4 separate regions of the Homo sapiens genome follow, and all the other regions are reported to be linked to region 4. The links are microRNA targets in miRTarBase. Many come from high-throughput screens and were not tested one by one. Region 4 holds a microRNA gene; each other region holds the end of a gene's coding sequence.
What was found. The annotated mature microRNA hsa-miR-3650 reads AGGUGUGUCUGUAGAGUCC and lies in region 4 at 1,310-1,328, shown strand. An mRNA with a match to its seed (bases 2 to 7 or 8) in the 3' UTR can be bound and repressed. Matches are read on the target gene's strand: a 7mer-m8 pairs with bases 2 to 8, a 7mer-A1 pairs with bases 2 to 7 and ends in A, and an 8mer does both.

Region 1 (4,277 bases), not on the chromosome of region 4:
CTTTGAGTGGGAAGCCATGAGAAATGCCCAAACAAGCCAGTGGGCTTTCCAGACTAAGAGCTATCACTTTCACTCTTTCTACATAATCACTTCTTACATAGGTTTCAACATAAGGTACATTTTGATCTCTAAAATATAAATTCATACCAATTTTAGCTTCCATCCTCAGACTTCCTTTCCTGTTGTACTTCCTTTTCAAATATCAGAGGAATGCTCAAAATAATGAAAAGAGCCTTGATTTTCTTGCTGACCACTCGCAGCAATAATTTTGGCTTCTCCCCCATGTACATATACCTTCTAATCTCCAGACATGTTAGTAAAGGACTTGAATTTTCTGGCTTTTCCACTTTAATTCCAACCTCTAGGAGTACAGCAAGAGCCTTTTCCTCCTCCCAAACACCCATCCCTTGCTTTGTAGAGCCTCATGGACCAGCACTGCCACTAAGGCTGCGCTCCTGCCCCTTTGGCCCTCTTCAGGGAATCCTGCTATCCTAAGGGCCGTGCACACTGTAGGGAACAAATCCTTTGCTGAATTCTCAATGCATGAGACCAAAGAGAAGATAGTAATACCCAAGGGTTGGAATAGAACCAGATAACTTAAGGGTTATTTGGGAATAGAGTATCTTGAGCCATTGATGCTGGACCTACATACTTACTTATTTCAGAACTCCCTTCTCCTGGTTTTTCTATTCTTTAAGTGAGGAGGACATTTTTATTGATCATGTCATTATTCATTTAAAACTCAATAAATGCCTATCAATAGATAATTGGTTAAATTATGGGACATCCATCTTCTGATCCTTCCAGATAAGATCGGTAACCTTTACTGGATGGCTCATAGCATCTGGGTTATTACCTACCAAGAACAGTGTTTTATGCAGTTATTTAATATCTGTCTCCTTACTAGACTGTAAGCCCAATCAAGGAAGCATGAAGGTGGCTACTGTATGCTTAGAACCATGATTGGTATGGTAGATGTTTAATGTTTGAATGTATAATAAATGCATACAATGGAATACTATGCAGACATTTATTTATTTATTTATTTATTTAGAGACAGAGTCTCGCTCTATCACCAGGCTGGAGTGCAGTGGCTCAATCTTGGCTCACTGCAACCTCTGCCGCTGGGTTCAAGCAGTTCTCCTGCCTCAGCCTCCCGAGTAGGTGGACTACAGGCGCCTGCCACCGTGCCTGGCTGATTTTTGTATTTTCAATAGAGATGAGGTTTCACCATATTGGCCAGGCTGGTCTCGAACTCCTGACCTTGTGATCTACCTGCCTTGGCCTCCCAAAGTGGTAGGATTACAGGCGTGAGCCACCACACCCAGCCTATGCAGCCATTTAAAGCATGACAATGTGGAATTGTTTATTGACATGTAAGGTTACCCATAATATAATGTTAAATTTTAAAAATCAAATAATAAAATAGTAGATATGCTATGATCATGTTTTAACAAAAAAGAATAGCCATACATACAGATAGATACATCAAAATGTTAATAGTGGTAAGATTATGAATGACTTTTTCTTTTATTGGTTAACTCTTTGTATTATCTGAAATTTTACAACAACAGCATTTATTTGACCTGTTTTTTTTATTTTATTTTATTTTTTAGAGACCAGGTCTCACTCTGTCACCCATACTGGAGGATAGTGGCACAATGACAGCTCACTACAGCTTTGAACTCCTGGGCTCAATTGATCCTCTTGTCTCAGCTTCCTGAGTAGCTGGGACTATAGGTGCACACCACCACACTTGGCTTTTTGGTTTTTTTTTTTTTTTCTGAGACAAAGTGTTGCTCTGCCACCCAGGCTGGAGTGCAGTGGTGTGATCTCTGCTCACTGTAACCTCCACCTCTTGGGCTCAAGCAATTCTCCTGCCTCAGCCTCCCAAGTAGCTGGGACTACAGGCGTGTGCCACCAGGCCCAGGTAATTTTTTGTATTTTTACAAAACTGTAGAGATGGGGTTTCACCATGTTGGCCAGGGTGGTCTCGAACTCCTGACCTCAGGTGATCTGGCCACCTCGGCCTCCCAAAGTGCTGGGATTACAGGCGTGAGCCACCAGGCTAATTTTAAAAATAATGTTTTTTGAGATGGGATCTCACTATGTTGCCCAGGCTGGTCTCAAACTCCTGGCCTCAAGTGATCCTCCTGCTTCAGCCTCCCCTATAACTGGGATTACAGTTACAAGTCATCACACCTGGCTGATTTATTCTTTCCTGATTTTAAAATTATTTCCATTTTGAGAAAAACCAAGTAGATATTAAAACAACCTTTTTTCTGTCACAAAACTTCACTTAAACAACTAATTTTGGCATACAGTTTTCAACTGGACAATATTAGAAACAACATGGATTTCCGAATGCAAATTGAAATGTTGGATACATTCATCTCGTTGCTATTTCTGATTAAAGTAGACCTTTAACAAAATGATCATTATGAAACCTTCATTTCTATACAAAATTTCTTATTTTTTATATCCATAATTACTATTAGACTCTTCCTTCTCCTCTTATTTACATTCTTACCCAGGATATGGAGAATGGAATAGACCTTAATTTCTTATCCTATTTTTTAGCTGAAGACCAAAAAAGTTAAAAGGAAGTAGACTTCTCAAATTTTTTTTAAAAAAAGAAATGTCAGTGGCTGCTACATTTAAAGTACCTTCCTTACATGAGGGAAGTTTGCAAAGGTGAAGGTCTTCCCCAAGAAAATACCAAAGCATTACCACAAATCTAAAACTATATCCATTTTAAACAAACACCTTTAATAGACTGGTTATAAAACTATAATTGGACAATTTTAAGGCCAGTTTATACTTTTCCCTTTTCAAAGACATTAATTAATATAAATAAGACACTATCAGATGATATTCTCTATACAGAGCAAGAATATACTCTTGGATATCTCAAAAGAGAAGTATAATTGCACTTATTTCATACAACAATTAGCATAATAACGGAAATGGAAAATATTTTTGTATATAAATTCCATTTCTTAATTAAGTAAAATTAAAGTTTCATTAAGAGTCAGTTAAAAAAAATAGGGCATATACTGTCTGTATATGGCTACCTGTCTTTTAGTAACATGAATTTTGTTTTTTTGTTTTTGAGATGGCGTCTTGCTCTGTCGCCCAGGCTGGAGTGCAATAGCACGATCTCAGCTCACTGCAACCTCCACCTCCCAGGTTCAAGCGATTCTCCTGCCTCAGCCTCCCAAGTAGCTGGGATTATAGGTACCCACCACCACACCCGGCTAATTTTTGTATTTTTAGTAGAGGCCAGGTTTCACCATGTTGGCCAGGCTGGTCTCAAACTTCTAACCTCAGGTGATCCGCCCACCTGGGCCTCCCAAAGTGCTGGGATTACAGGCGTGAGCCACCATGCCCGGCCTAATTTTGTTAATCTTGCCAGTTTCAAGCCATTGACACAAAAACATCAGCACCATATTAAGAAGTCACACTCTGACCTATAAAATGTGACAGCCCCAGGAGAACCATTACACCATTATTCATTTTCAGTAAAAAGTCTAATAGAACAGTGACAAATATTGTGCCTTAGATCCTTAATCATACGATACAAATCATTTACAATATAAATTGTAAAGATGAACATGTGCTGGCACAGCTAGGGTTTACATACTCTTTGGAAGCTCAAAAAGTTCAAGAATGTCTTATCAGTCTTCATTTCAGATCTAGTAGCATAAAAGCTGGGTTTTCTAAATAGGATTTCCACAAATTGGAGAAGCGTGACATTGTAGCACCATCAATAACTCTGTGATCAGCTGACCAGCTCACATTCATTATCTGTGCCTTATATACTTCTCCTTTCTGGTTAAATCGGGGAATGGCCTAGAAATGAAAAAAAAAAAAAAAAAAAAAAAAAAAAGAACAAAGAGTAAACCTTCACTTGTTCAGAGCTCAAGCTCTAACAATGGTGTAAGATCAGGCAAACCCTTCTTCCTGTACAGTACAGAAAAAAATGGGCATCCCCAATGACTTTTGAAAATGCTGATTCCTACTCTTCCCATCTTTGAGTATATGCCTGGAGCTTACAGAAGTTCTCCAAGGTACTTCCTATCCCTTGTACAATTCCCATACCTACATTCATTAACTTTCATCTCAGATTTCAAATATTTAATAATTATTTACTGTATACCCACTATGTGCCAAGTATTCTTCTAGGCTCTGGGGAGAGACAGACAATTAAATAAGGCTTCCTCACTGAAGGCAGTGAGGAAACAAGCCATTATCAAGTTCCCCTGACCACTGAGTTG
Region 2 (4,277 bases), not on the chromosome of region 4:
CAAGACAGTTACCAAATGACTGTCAAGTGGGGAGTGTATACAGCATGCATATGCTGGACAAAGGGACGATTCACCTCCCAGGCAAGACGGAGCGGGACAGAGCAGGACAAAGTGGGATGGTGCAAGATTTCATCACACTACTCAGAATGGCATGCAGTTTAAAACTTATACATTGTTTATTTCTGGAATTTTCTGTTTAATATTTTGGGACCTCAGTTGACCATGAGTAACACAAACCACAGAATGCGAAACAGTGGATAAGAGAGGGACTACTGTACATACTTTCGCCTAAGACAGTTCTGTATATTCTTCTGTTAACGGGGTAGCAAAAGCATATAGAAAGGTTTTGGGGGGATGCAGTGCATTGCTCTTCTGTAATGACAGTAATTTACTTCAAGACATTGCAGGAGAAGGGGTTAAAGGAGTAAAGGGGAGGAAGAGAAGGATTCATTTCATGCCTACCTGTACAGAGACACTTTCTTGCTTTCTACTTTTTTTTTTTTTTTTTTTTTTGAGACGGAATCTCACTCTGTGCCCAGGCTGGAGTGCAGTGGCACAATCTCGATCTCAACTCACTGCAACCTCTGTCTCCTGGGTTCAAGTGATCCTCCTACCACAGCCTCCCAAGTAGTTGGGATTATAGGCGCGTGCCACCATGCCCGGCTAATTTTTCGTAGTTTTAGTAGAGACAGGGTCTCACCATGTTGGCCAAGCTGGTCTTGAACTCCTGACCTCAAATGATCTACCCACCTTGGCGTCCCAAAGTGCTGGGATTATAGGCGTAAGCCACCATGCCTGGCTGCATTCTACTTTTAAACTTTGAACTAAATTTCATTAACAGTAAGCTTATTAATAAGCAAACCTTTTAAAATGTGGCATAAAAAGACTGGGCACAGTGGCTCAGGCCTGTAATCCCAACACTTTGGAAGGCGAAGGCAGATGGATCATGTGACTGCAGGAATTCGAGACCAGTCTGGGCAACATAGTGAAACCCTATCTCTACAACAAAATACAAAAATTAGCTGGGTGGAGGGGGTGCGCACCTGTGGTCCCAGTTACTCAGGAGGCTGAGGTGGGAGGAGCACCTGAGCCCAGGAGGTACAGGCTGTAGTGAGGCATGATCACACCACTGCACTCCAGCCTAGGAGACGGAGATGCTGTCTCCAAAAAACAAACAAAAAACGGGATAAAGGATAGCTGTAGGGGCTCTCTGGGGCTGTCTTAATGTCTGACCATCCATTATTTGAAAGTAATGTTCTCTATAGAGTTAATTACATAATGGCATTGTAATTACTAAGTGCCCTTAAAATGAGTATCAAAGGCTTTTACAAACTGGCAAATAAAATTTAACTCTGCATCTTTGTTAGGTACATGTTATAAAAGTTTTTTTGTTTTGTTTTTGTGTTTTTGAGGCAGGGCCTCACTCCATTACCCAGGTTGGAGTACAGTGTTGTGATCATAGTTCACTGCAGCCTCAAACTCCTAGGCTTGATCAATTCTCCCATCTCAGCCTCTTGAGTAGTTAGGAGTACAGGTGCTCACCACCACAGCTGGCTAACTTTTTAATTAGTTATTTACTTATTTTTAGAGACAGGGTCTCACTCTGTCGCCCAGGCTGGAGTGCAGTGGCATGATCTCGGCTCACTGCAACCTCTGCCTCCCGGGTTCAAGCAATTCTACTGCCTCAGCCTCCTGAGTAGCTGAGATTAGAGGTGCTTGCCACCATGCCTGGCTAACTTTTTGTATTTTTAGTAGAGACAAGGTTTTGCCATGTTGGCCAGGCTGGTTTCAAACTCCTGACCTCAAGTGATCTGCCTGCCTCGGCCTCCCAAAGTACTAGGATTACAGGCATGAGCCATCACACCTATTTATTTTTTGTAGAGATATGGTCTTGCTGTGTTGCCCAGGCTGGTCTTGAACTAATGGGCTCAACCAATCCTCCTGGCTTGGCCCCCCAAAATGTTGGGATTACAGGCCTGAGCCACCGCACTCGGACTTTTTTATTTTTGAGACAGGGTTTCACTCTGTCACCCAGGCTGGAGTGCAGTGACACGATCATAGCTCACTGCAGACTCGAACTCCTGGGCTCAAGAAATCTTCTGCCTCAGACTCCCGAGTAGTTGAGACTACAGGTATGTGCCACCACACCCGGCTGATTTTTGCATTTTTTGTAGAGATGAGGTCTATGTTGCCCAGGCTGGTCTTGAATTTCTGGCCTCAAGCGATCCTCCTTCCTCAGCCTCCCAAAGTGCAGGGGTTACAGGTGTGAGGCACTGCACCAGCCCCACATTACAAAGCTTTTAGAGCCAGGCCAGGAAGGTTCAAGGTTGTAGTACAACATGATCATGCTTGTGAAAAGCCACTGCAGTCCAGCCTGGACAACACAGCAAGACCTGCTTCTCTTAAAAACAAACAAACAAAAAACACCTCTTGGCTGGGCATGGTGGCTCATGCTTGTAATCCCAGCACTTTGGGAGGCTGAAGCAGGTGGATCACTTGAGGTCAGGAGTTCAAGAACAGCCTGGCCAACATGGTGAAACCCTATCTCTACTAAAAATACAAAAATTAGCTGGGCTTTACATAAAACCGGGCAGGGCATGGTGGCTCACATCTGTAATCACAGCTCAGTCTCCTGGGGACTACATGCCTGTAGTCGCAGCTACTCAGGAGGCTGAGGCAGGAGAATTGCTTAAACCCAGAGGTGGAGGTTGCAGTGAGCTGAGATCACACCACTGCACTCCAGCTTGGGTGACAGAGCAAGACTCCGTCTTAAAAAACAAAACAAAAAAACAAACAAAAAAACACCTCTTAAAAAGTTAATTTTACTAAGCCTTTTAAAGGAATAAGACAGCCTTCAGAAGTCAGGCACTGTGGCTCATCTGTAATCCCAGCGTTCTGGGAGGCTGAGGCAGGCAGATCACCTGAGGTCAGGAGTTTGAGACAGCCTGGCCAACATGGTGAAACCCTGTCTCTACTAAAAATACAAAAATTAGCCAGGTGTGGTGGTGCATGCCTGTAGTCCCAGCTCGGAGGCTGAGGCAGGAGAATCGCTTGAACCCCGGAAGTGGAGGTTGCAGTGAGCCGAGAATGTGCCAGGTGACACAGCTAGACTAGACTCCGTCTCAAAAAAAAAAAAATAGCTTTCAGAAAACAGCGTTACTCAAAATGCCTTGTGTTTAAATTTTAAAACTTTATTGGCTGACGGAAAACTGCCATACTTTCTTCCCACTACCATCCTGCTATTCCTGAATTCAATTTGCAAAAGAAGCATAGACCAAGAAGGGTTCCTTAGGTGCTCAACAGAATTTAAAGTGCGACAGATATGTTTACAATTAGAAAATAAAACTTCTCTCTCAGTTTAAAGAAATTTTTTTCTTTGTACATATTTTAAAGTACAGTTGTGTTTTCTTTTTAGGAACTGTGGAAAATGCCTATTTATAATGTCTTTGGAAGGATACCCCATTTTGTAATTGTGGTCTTCCAGATTCTTCTGGGTTAACATGTTGAGATGTATTCCACGGTACTCGCATTTCTGATAAATCCATATTGTCTCGAAGAGACTTCCTTTCAGCTTTCTGACATCTTATCAAGAATTAGTAGAGGGGCAAGAATTCTTGCCCTGTTAGTTTCCACAATGCAGCCATTTAACACCATCTCATCCAAAATGATGTGTACTTTATCCAAATTAAACATTATCTACGGTTATATTAAGGAAATTAGTTTAAAGTTAAAAATTATTAACATTCAGTAAAAATTTATGGCTTAACCTAGAGTGTTCCCAGTGTAAATTAGCCTAAGCATGAGGTTTTTTGTACAAAATTTCTGAAATTAAATTTAAAACTGGCATCCATATTAGAAATTGTTACCTTCATATATACATACCTAGTTTCACCTTGGTTAAGCTAACAGGATAAGTAGGGATAAAAATGAAACAGCTACATTTTTTAACCAAAGGGATAGGGGGTCTACTAAGTGCTAGAGAACACAGCAGTGTCATGTGGCAAGAGAATGACCTTAACTCAAAAATAGTGTTGTCTTCCCAGACAATAATAGTAACAGTAGCAACGATTTGTTGAATACTCCCGTTCCAGACAGTGTGTTGAGTTTCAGCCCTCTACAAATCTCTGATGTATGTTGTTACATATTATCCTCAGTTTACCCAGGATCAAACAGGTTCAAAGCATAGTCCAAGGTCACATGGCTAGTAAATGCCAGGTTTGAATTTAAACCCAAAGCTTGGGCTTGACTGCTCTGCTTATAGGCTCCTCAGGAGGGGC
Region 3 (4,277 bases), not on the chromosome of region 4:
AACCCTCTTTACTTTTTTTTTTTTCTTTTTGAGATGGAGTCTCGCTGTCGCCCAGGCCGAAGTGCAGTGGCGCGATCTCAGCTCACTGCAATGAGCTCTGCCTCCTGGGTTCACGCCATTCTCCTGCCTCAGCCTCCCAAGTAGCTGAGACTACAGGTGCCCACCACCACGCTTGGCTCATTTTTTGTATTTTTTAGTAGAGACGGGGTTTCACCATGTTAGCCAGGATGGTCTTGATCTCCTGACCTCGTGATCTGCCCGCCTTGGCCTCCCAAAGTGCTGGGATTACAGGCGTAAGGCACTGCGCCCGGCCAAGAAACACCCTTTTCTCTTCTTTTTTTGAGACAGTCTCGCTCTGTTGCCCAGGCTACAGTGCAATGGCACGATCTCGGCTCACTGCAAGCTCTGCCTCCCAGGTTGACACCATTCTCCTGCCTCAGCCTCCCCAGTAGCTGGGACTACAGGCACCTGCCACCACACCCGGCTTTTTTTTTTTTTTTTTTTTAGACGGAGTCTCGCTCTTTCGCCCAGGCCGAAGTGCAGTGGCACTATCTGGGCTCACTGCAAGCTCCGCCTTCCGGGTTCAAGCCATTCTCCTGCCTCAGCCTCCCGAGTAGCTGAGACTACAGGTGCCCACCACTGTGCCCGGCTAATTTTTTTTGTATTTTTAGTAGAGATGGGGTTTCACCGTGTCAGCCAGGATGGTCTTGATCTCCTGACCTTGTGATCCGCCCGCCTCGGCGTGCCAAAGTGCTGAGATTACAGGCGTGAGCCACTGCGCCCAGCCTTATGCCTGGCTAATTTTTTGTATTTTTAGTAGAGACGGGGTTTCACAGTGTTAGCCAGGATGGTCTCGATCTCCTGACCTCGTGATTCCCCCGCCTCGGCCTCCCAAAGTGCTGGGATTACAGGTGTGAGCCACCATGCCTGGCCGAAACTCCCTTTTCTAAACAAGACAGGGACTTAAGACATTTCCCTACTCAGTACCTAAAGCCAAGGTATGACCCACCAGCAGCAAGTTACAAAGTGTTCAAAGTATGTCATCTCAGTTCAGCTTAATTCCAACTGACATAAAGAGTACATTTTTAGAAATATGTTCTCAGAAAACAAGTAAATGGCAAAGCCCAAATCAAAACCTCCTTTTCAACAACTAAGTTTGTCCCAATTTTCAATGGTTAAGACTTTTGACTGGTTGACTTTACAATGGTGCAACAGTGATAGGCATTCAGTAGAAATACTACTACCATTTTTTTTTTTTTTCCCTCAAGAGACAGCTTGTAGTTCTCTAATCTCCTGCTCTAGGCCGAAGAGGCGGGAGCAGGACTGTCATCCAGGCTGGATTGTAGTGGTGCCATCATGGCTCACTGTAGCCCTGAACTGCCTTGGAATCAAGCAATCCTCCTGCCTTAGCCTCCCAAGAAGCTGGGACTACAAGTGTGTGCTACCACGTGGACCTGTCTATTTTGTTTCTGTTTTTGAGACAGAGTCTTGCTCTGTTGCCCAGGCTGGAGTGCAATGGTGCAGTATGGGCTCACTGCAACCTCTGCCTCCTGGGCTCAAGCAATTCTCCTGCCTCAGCCTCCTAAATAGTTAGGATTACAGGTGCTTGCTGCCATGCCTGGTTGTTTTTTTTTTTTTTTTTTTTTGAGACAGAGTCTCACTCTTTCTCCCAGGCTGGAGTGCAGTGGCGCTATCTCAGCTCACTGCAAGCTCTGCCTCCTGGGTTCACGCCAATCTCCTGCCTCAGCCTCCCGAGTAGCTGGGACTACAGGCGCCCGCCACCATGCCTGGCTAATTTTTTGTATTTTCAGTGGAGATGGGGTTTCACCATGTTAGCCAGGCTGGTCTCGAACTCCTGACCTCAGGTGATTCACCCGCTTCAGCCTCCCAAAGTGCTGGGATTACAGGCGTGAGCCACGCCTGGCTGGACCTGACCATTTTAATGTTTTTGTTTTTTATAGAGACAGGTCACTGTGTTGCCCAGGCTGGTCTTGAACCCCTGTCCTTTTCTTACATCACTGTCTATTCTCTCCCCTACTGGGCTGGGCACTCCTTGCATCCTCAGAGCCTTGCATAATGCCTGGGACATACAACACGGGCTTAGAAAGTATTTGTTGAATGGGCCGGGTGCGGTGGCTCACGCCTGTAATCCCAGAACTTTGGGAGGCCGAGGTGGGTGGATCACAAGATCAGGAGATCGAGACCATCCTGGCAAACACGGTGAAACCCCATCTCTACTAAAAATACAAAAAATGAGCCAGGCGTGGTGGCAGGCGCCTGTAGTCCCAGCTACTCAGGAGGCTGAGGCAGGAGAATGGTGGGAACCCGGGAGGCGGAGCTTACAGTGAGCTGAGATCGCTACTGCACTCCAGCCTGGGTGACACAGTGAGACTCCGTCTCAAAAAAAAAAAAAAAGTATTTGTTGAATGAAAAAACCTGCTTCCTTCACTAGCCATTCAGCTACCATCGTCCAACTCTCCCCCAACCCCCACTCCAAGTTCTTATTTAGTAGGAAAACAGAACAGACTTCCCTTAAAATACGTACACTGGTAAATACATGGGCACTAAAAAACAGTTTCAGGAAAAAAAAAAAACTTGGTTTCTGACTTTATTACTGGTAATTTATTGCACAGGTTTTTCTGCATCAAAAAAGTATCTGCTAAAATAGAGAAACAGTTGTGTCTGAATTCACATTTCCCCCCAACTTCTAAAAATATTTCCCCTAAAAAAGAATCCACTCATCTAATTTTAAAGAAAATATACTTCTTACACAAGACAATCCAAACTGATGCAAAATATTTATTCCAAGTTAGTTATTTTATGCAGTAGTTTCCCCCTCGAGACTTGTGATAACCACATCTTTTAAATCTGTAAATAATGTTATCAAAATAATCTTAATCTTTGAAATCTCACAAAAATTTATATTTTACAATCCACCCTGAATATCAAGGCTGCAAGAATAACACAACATTTCCTATATCCAAATATTTTACAGCTGTACCCAAAAAGGAAAAAGAAAAAAAAAACAAAAAAAAACAACCAAAAAAACCCACATATGCTTGGTTAAGGGCTAAAGTTACCCGAGCAGCCAAAAATAAAATAAAATATCCAAATTATTAGCATTAATTTAATACAATTATAACTTCAATAGTCACTTTGTCATTGACAATGATTGCTTGATCACAGGGGTGAGTGCCCCAAGGGCTGGTAGTAGAAGCTGTTGCTGCAGACCAGTGTCTCCTCTTCCCTGCACTGCCAGCTCCTACCTGTGCATCGCCCCATATATACTGGGTGTGTATGTGTGTGTGTGTGTGAGTGTGTTTAAAAAATCTGTCCCACCACACAAACTTCTCTCTATAAAGCAGATAACAGGGAAGAACAATAACAAAAGCAAAACAAGCCAATTGCTCTCTCTTTGGGATATGATTATTTCCCTTGTGAATGAAGTATTCAACAACATAAGAAAAGGAAAAGAACGATTTCTTTTGTATACTCCCTAAACACACAGAGTTTACTGGGTCAGATTTAACTGTGAGCATTTATATGCCTACTTCCAGGCATCGTCATCTGATGTTTCACTGCTACTGGTTTCGGTGTCTGAGTCCTCAAACTCTGCTTTGCAAGTGCTTCTCCAAGGGGAGAACAGACTGGAACTGCGGCTCTGCAAGAAGCCATTCTTTCCAAAGCCATTTCTTCTCAGCTATGGTTAGCATGGGAGAGAAAGAAAAAAGAAAAAAATATCAATGACTGTACTGACCCATAAGCCCTGGGAAAGGCCAGGCCTCAATTCAATTCTAGGTAGAATGTGGGGCGGGGGGTGCTTCTAAGAGACCCTCTGAGATCTCTTATACCAGTACTTTTCAAATTTTAATTTACGAGTCATCTACGCATCTTTCAAAAATGCAGATTCAGATTCAGAATGTCTGGGATGGGGCTTGAAAGTCCTTATTTCTTTTTATTTATTTATTTTTTTGAGACGGAATCTCGCTCTGTCACCCAGGCTAGAGTGCAATGGCACAATCTTGGCTCACTGCATCCTCCGCCTCCTGGGTTCAAGCGATTCTCCTGCCTCAGCCTCCCAAGTAGCTTGGATTACAGGCGCACACCACCACGCCTAGTTAATTTTTGTATTTTTAGTAGAGATGGGGCTTCACCATATTGGCCAGTATGCTCTTGAGCTCCTGACCTCGTCATCTGCCTGCCTCGGCCTCCCAAAGTGTTGGGATTACAGGCGTGAGCCACTGTGCCCAGCCATAAGTCCTTATTTCTAACAGAGT
Region 4 (4,000 bases):
TAATCCTCACTTGTTAGGGAGAGAAATGACTTGATTATGGGGACAGTTTTCCCGTGTTGTTCTCGTGATAGTAACTGAATTCTCACGCGATCTGACGGTTTTGTGTTTGGCAAGTTCCTCCGCTCACAATTCTTTCCGCTTCCTTGTGAAGAAGGTACTTGCTTCTCCTTCCACCACGATTGTTAAGTTTCCTGAGGTCTCCCCAGCCATGTGGAACTGTGAGTCAATTAAACCTCTTTCCTTTATAAATTACCCAGTCTCGCGCAGTTCTTTATAGCAGTGTGAGAACGGACTAATACACAGTATTTGCTTTTTCTTTAAGAGGACCACCCAAATTGCATAAATTGCAGGCCCCACAAAACCTGCATTACCCCCTAAGTGTGAGAATAGTACCTATTTCACAGGTGTGCTGTGAGGATTAAGAGGTAATGGACACATGGTGTGTATCAGGTGGATGTTAGCCATTATCACTACTCTGAATCTCCATCTTTCTATTATAGCAAGGCCACAGAAATGAGCATTTTATGTAATATTCTTAAAACTAAATTCTTCTCATGGAATGGGATTTTTCAACCCCAGGCAACAGGGCCACATCATGTTTTTCTTGGGCTCTAGGCCTTTTTGCCTTCGTTGAGCCCCTTACTCCATTAAAATATATATACATATACACACACACATATATACATACATTTTAAGATTGTATTAGCACAAAAACAAATATATTAATATATATTAAAATACTTTCTTAAACCTAAATTTTTTTTCCTTCTGATTTGAAAAGAAATTAAAATATTTTTTGTGGGCCTCTAAAAATATTGTGGACCTTAGGCACTGTGCCTAATGGAAAAGACAGTGACAGGATTGTGCAATATGAATAATGATAAATTTCCCAAACCATCAAGGACTCAAGAATAAGGGTAAACATCTTAAATGGGGTTGGTTTCGAGTACTTATAATAGAAAAATGTTATCCAAACAAGGTCTTAGGGGTAACAGGAGGCGTTTTTAGTGTTCAAAATACGCACATGGATGGAGTTGGCCATTAGGACGCTAATAGCGACCGTATCTAGCTGTGAAATACATATTTTTGTTTTGGGAGTCTACTTTTCAGTAAATGTCCTTTCAGGTGTTTTGTTGCCCATTTAATTACATGATCAACAAGGAAGAGTTATTTTACAAAACAAGCTTCATTTTGCCAATTTATAAATTGCTTTGGAGTTTCATCGAAAGGTCTTTAAAAAACACGTTGGCCTTGGTGCTGGTGCATCACATAAATCACAGATGAAACAAACAAGCCTGTTTCCTACTCAAGGTGTGTCTGTAGAGTCCTGACTGCGTGCCAGGGGCTCTGTCTGGCACATTTCTGAACTTTGCAAAATTAATTGTGCCGAAGAGAACACCATCAAACGCGTCCGGCATACAGCGTAAACATCTTCAGACCGTGATTCTGCGCCATCAAACGCTCTCCAGCTAATTTCATTTGGTGATTACTCTGCTAGAAAACCGAGGCCAAGTGAAACTGCGGAAATGGGAACAATGTACGGAGGAAAAATCTCACCCCATTAAGAGATCCGTTTCTTCTCCGCACAAATAAGCCCACCCCGCCTCCGAGGCAAGACTAGATGGCTCCAGGATACTCTCGGCGCGCCCGCTGGCCATCTCGGGCAGGGGAGCCCCACACCCGGCAGGAGGACCAGGACGCGAGCGGCGGCGCCTCGGCCCTGGGCTGTTTAGGTAATTCGCAAAGTCCCAACAATCATCCCCCTCTCCCAGAAGCTGGTTTTCTTGTGTGCAGTGGTTACAGAGGCGGCGAAAACACGGTTCCCCGCTTTCCTCTCCTCAAGGCACTGTTTGCAGCGGCAGCAGCGGCCGCATTCGGGGAGGCGCGGTCCTCCCCGCAGAGCCGTCGCGCACTCGGCCTTTCTCGAGGATTTGCCTGGGCTCGGCCGCCTCGCTCTCCCCTGCGCTTCCATGACCTTCTGAGAGCGGCCTCACCACCGGAGGCTCGGAGGAAGCACCACCCTCGGCGTCCGGGGCCCGTCGCGCGGCCGCGTTCCTCCGACTCCTTGGAGCACCCGCGCGCGCGGGCGCGCGGCCGGGGATCGGCGGGGGCGCGCGGGTTGGGGCGGGGCCGGGGCCGGGGGCAGGGGCGGGTCAGGGGCGGGGCCGGGCCCGCTGCGCCCCCAGCCGAGCGGCGTGCAGGCGCCGCCCCCGCGCGCCGCAGTCCCGGCTGGAGCGACTCGGCCGTGGCGGTGGCCGTTACCGTTGCCTCTGGGAGGCTCTGGCGGCGGCGGCGGCCCGCGGGGTTCGCGGAGCGCAGCGGGCCGCCCTTCGCCCGTGGCCGCCTCAAGCAGCCTCGCGCCGACACAGGGGAGGCGAGACGGCGGCTGCGGAGGCGGCGGCGCATTGTGCCCGGCCCCCTCCTTGGCGGCTCCTGCCCCCGGGCGGCTGTGGGATCTGGGCAGCCCCGGGGCGGCGGCCGAGGCTACAGAGCCGGCGGCAGGGGATGGCAAGATAGCGGCGCGGGAGCGTACCGTGAGTCCTGGGGGCGGGTGGGCGCGGCGCGGAGCAGGGGAGCCGCGGAGCCCCGAGCGGGGTCCCCAGGGGCGGCCCGGGCGGGGTGGGGCAGCGCTCCCAGCTCTGCGGAGCGTCCTAGGGGAGTGACCCCGGAGAGCGCCGCTCCGGGTCCCGCCGCTCTCCGCGCGCCCTTGGGTCACCCTCGTGTCCTGGGGGACGCGGACTCCAGCGCCCAGAACTTCTGCCCCACGCAGGGCAGTGAGTTCTGAGGCCAGAGGTTACCTGGGGGATGGGAGGGAGCTTGAAATGTTTTTCCTTCGGAGAGGTGACCTGCCAGGTGATTTCGTGCCCCTCTGCTTCAACTCCCCTTTAAACCTGTTCCTCGTCCTTTCTGTATCCGTAGTGCATTTGACTTACCTGTATTTTTATGTGCTAACTTCCGAAGGTGGTGTACTGGTTAAACCCAAAGTTAAAGTGTTGGAGGTCAAAGTTAGGCTTTGTGAAAGATGCCATTTCTGTTATGTTGTGTAAAAGCACAAAGCTGGATTCAGGAGTTCTGAGCGACACAAAACTGCACATCACGTGTTCTGAATTTACATGATTAATCTGAATTAATGTGATTTTTGCCCCCCACCCCCCACATTCCGCTACCAAAAATATATGAGGTCTTTTATTTGCAGTTGGGTATCTTTGTGTTCCTTTTTGAATGTTTAATGCAGTCAAATATTGTTATAACCTGTATTGTTATTGAGTGGCATTTATATGGAAATCGGTTCTTTGCATTTCTTTTTATGTGTCTTTAAAAGATACATTCTTTCAACAGAAAAGTTTCAGTTTAAAGTTTGTCTTCCGATTCCTGTTCAGTTTCAGATTAGTTTTTAATTTTAAAAAGTATTTGCTTGAAGTAAGATTAATGTGATATAGTAGTATCGTTTAGGCAGGGGTCCAGAAATGGTACAGAAATTAAATTTAAGGCAAACCTTTCCTTTTCACAAGTGGAAAAACCAAGGAGTTTTTTCAGCGCGAATGCTACTTGCCCTTCCCCTTACATGATTATTTTGTCACAGATCTGAAATTACATTTCACTGTTACCAGAGAGTTTCTTGTCTAAGCCTGGCAGAGAAAAGGAAGCCTAAGTATAATGTGTTTTTTAAAAACACGAGACCATTCTTTTAGTTGTCTTCTACGTTGACTTTATGCTTTATAGTCGGGGGCAACTGTTCATTTGGAAACTTCATTAGGGAGTTAGTTGCAAGCTCAATTTAAATATATGATGTGTTCCCAAGGTGATCGGAGCAGCTATTTCCTCTTCAAGAATTGAATTGAGACTTCTTTGCTTTGTAATAGGTGAGTGAGATCACTAGCAAGCCTCTTGATTAGTGGAGACTTGTATTCTCTTCTGGGGAATGAGAATCAGGGACTCTGCTGTTGAAGGAGCAAAACTTTTGTGATTTTTGAAAAATTTGCTTCTGAATGGTCATCCT

Region 1: the mRNA of DBT is a reported target of hsa-miR-3650. Seed matches in the 3' UTR shown: 7mer-A1 at 1,825-1,831.
Region 2: miRTarBase lists AP4S1 as a target of hsa-miR-3650. The part of its 3' UTR that is shown has no 7-base or 8-base seed match.
Region 3: the mRNA of GPBP1L1 is a reported target of hsa-miR-3650. Seed matches in the 3' UTR shown: 7mer-m8 at 3,291-3,297.

What each region holds. Positions count from the first base shown.
Region 1 is chr1:100,192,571-100,196,847 of GRCh38, forward strand. DBT (dihydrolipoamide branched chain transacylase E2) reads right to left here. Exons shown (of 11, transcript NM_001918.5): 11 at 1-3,852. The coding sequence ends at 3,685. It also overlaps the pseudogene RPL23AP90. Among named protein-coding and RNA genes, the nearest start is that of LRRC39, 16 kb to the left of the region's middle.
Region 2 is chr14:31,092,326-31,096,602 of GRCh38, reverse strand. It overlaps AP4S1 (adaptor related protein complex 4 subunit sigma 1), which reads right to left. Exons shown (of 6, transcript NM_001128126.3): 6 at 153-3,696. The coding sequence ends at 3,568. Among named protein-coding and RNA genes, the nearest start is that of STRN3, 68 kb to the right of the region's middle.
Region 3 is chr1:45,624,709-45,628,985 of GRCh38, forward strand. GPBP1L1 (GC-rich promoter binding protein 1 like 1) reads right to left here. Exons shown (of 13, transcript NM_021639.5): 13 at 2,596-3,700. The coding sequence ends at 3,548. Among named protein-coding and RNA genes, the nearest start is that of CCDC17, 2.8 kb to the left of the region's middle.
Region 4 is chr5:38,554,868-38,558,867 of GRCh38, reverse strand. MIR3650 (microRNA 3650) reads left to right here and starts at 1,307; the gene lies at 1,307-1,366. LIFR (LIF receptor subunit alpha) reads left to right here and starts at 2,222. Exons shown (of 20, transcript NM_001127671.2): 1 at 2,222-2,534. LIFR-AS1 (LIFR antisense RNA 1) reads right to left here and starts at 2,082. Exons shown (of 9, transcript NR_103554.1): 1 at 1-2,082. RefSeq lists enhancers at 1,836-1,945, 1,298-2,081.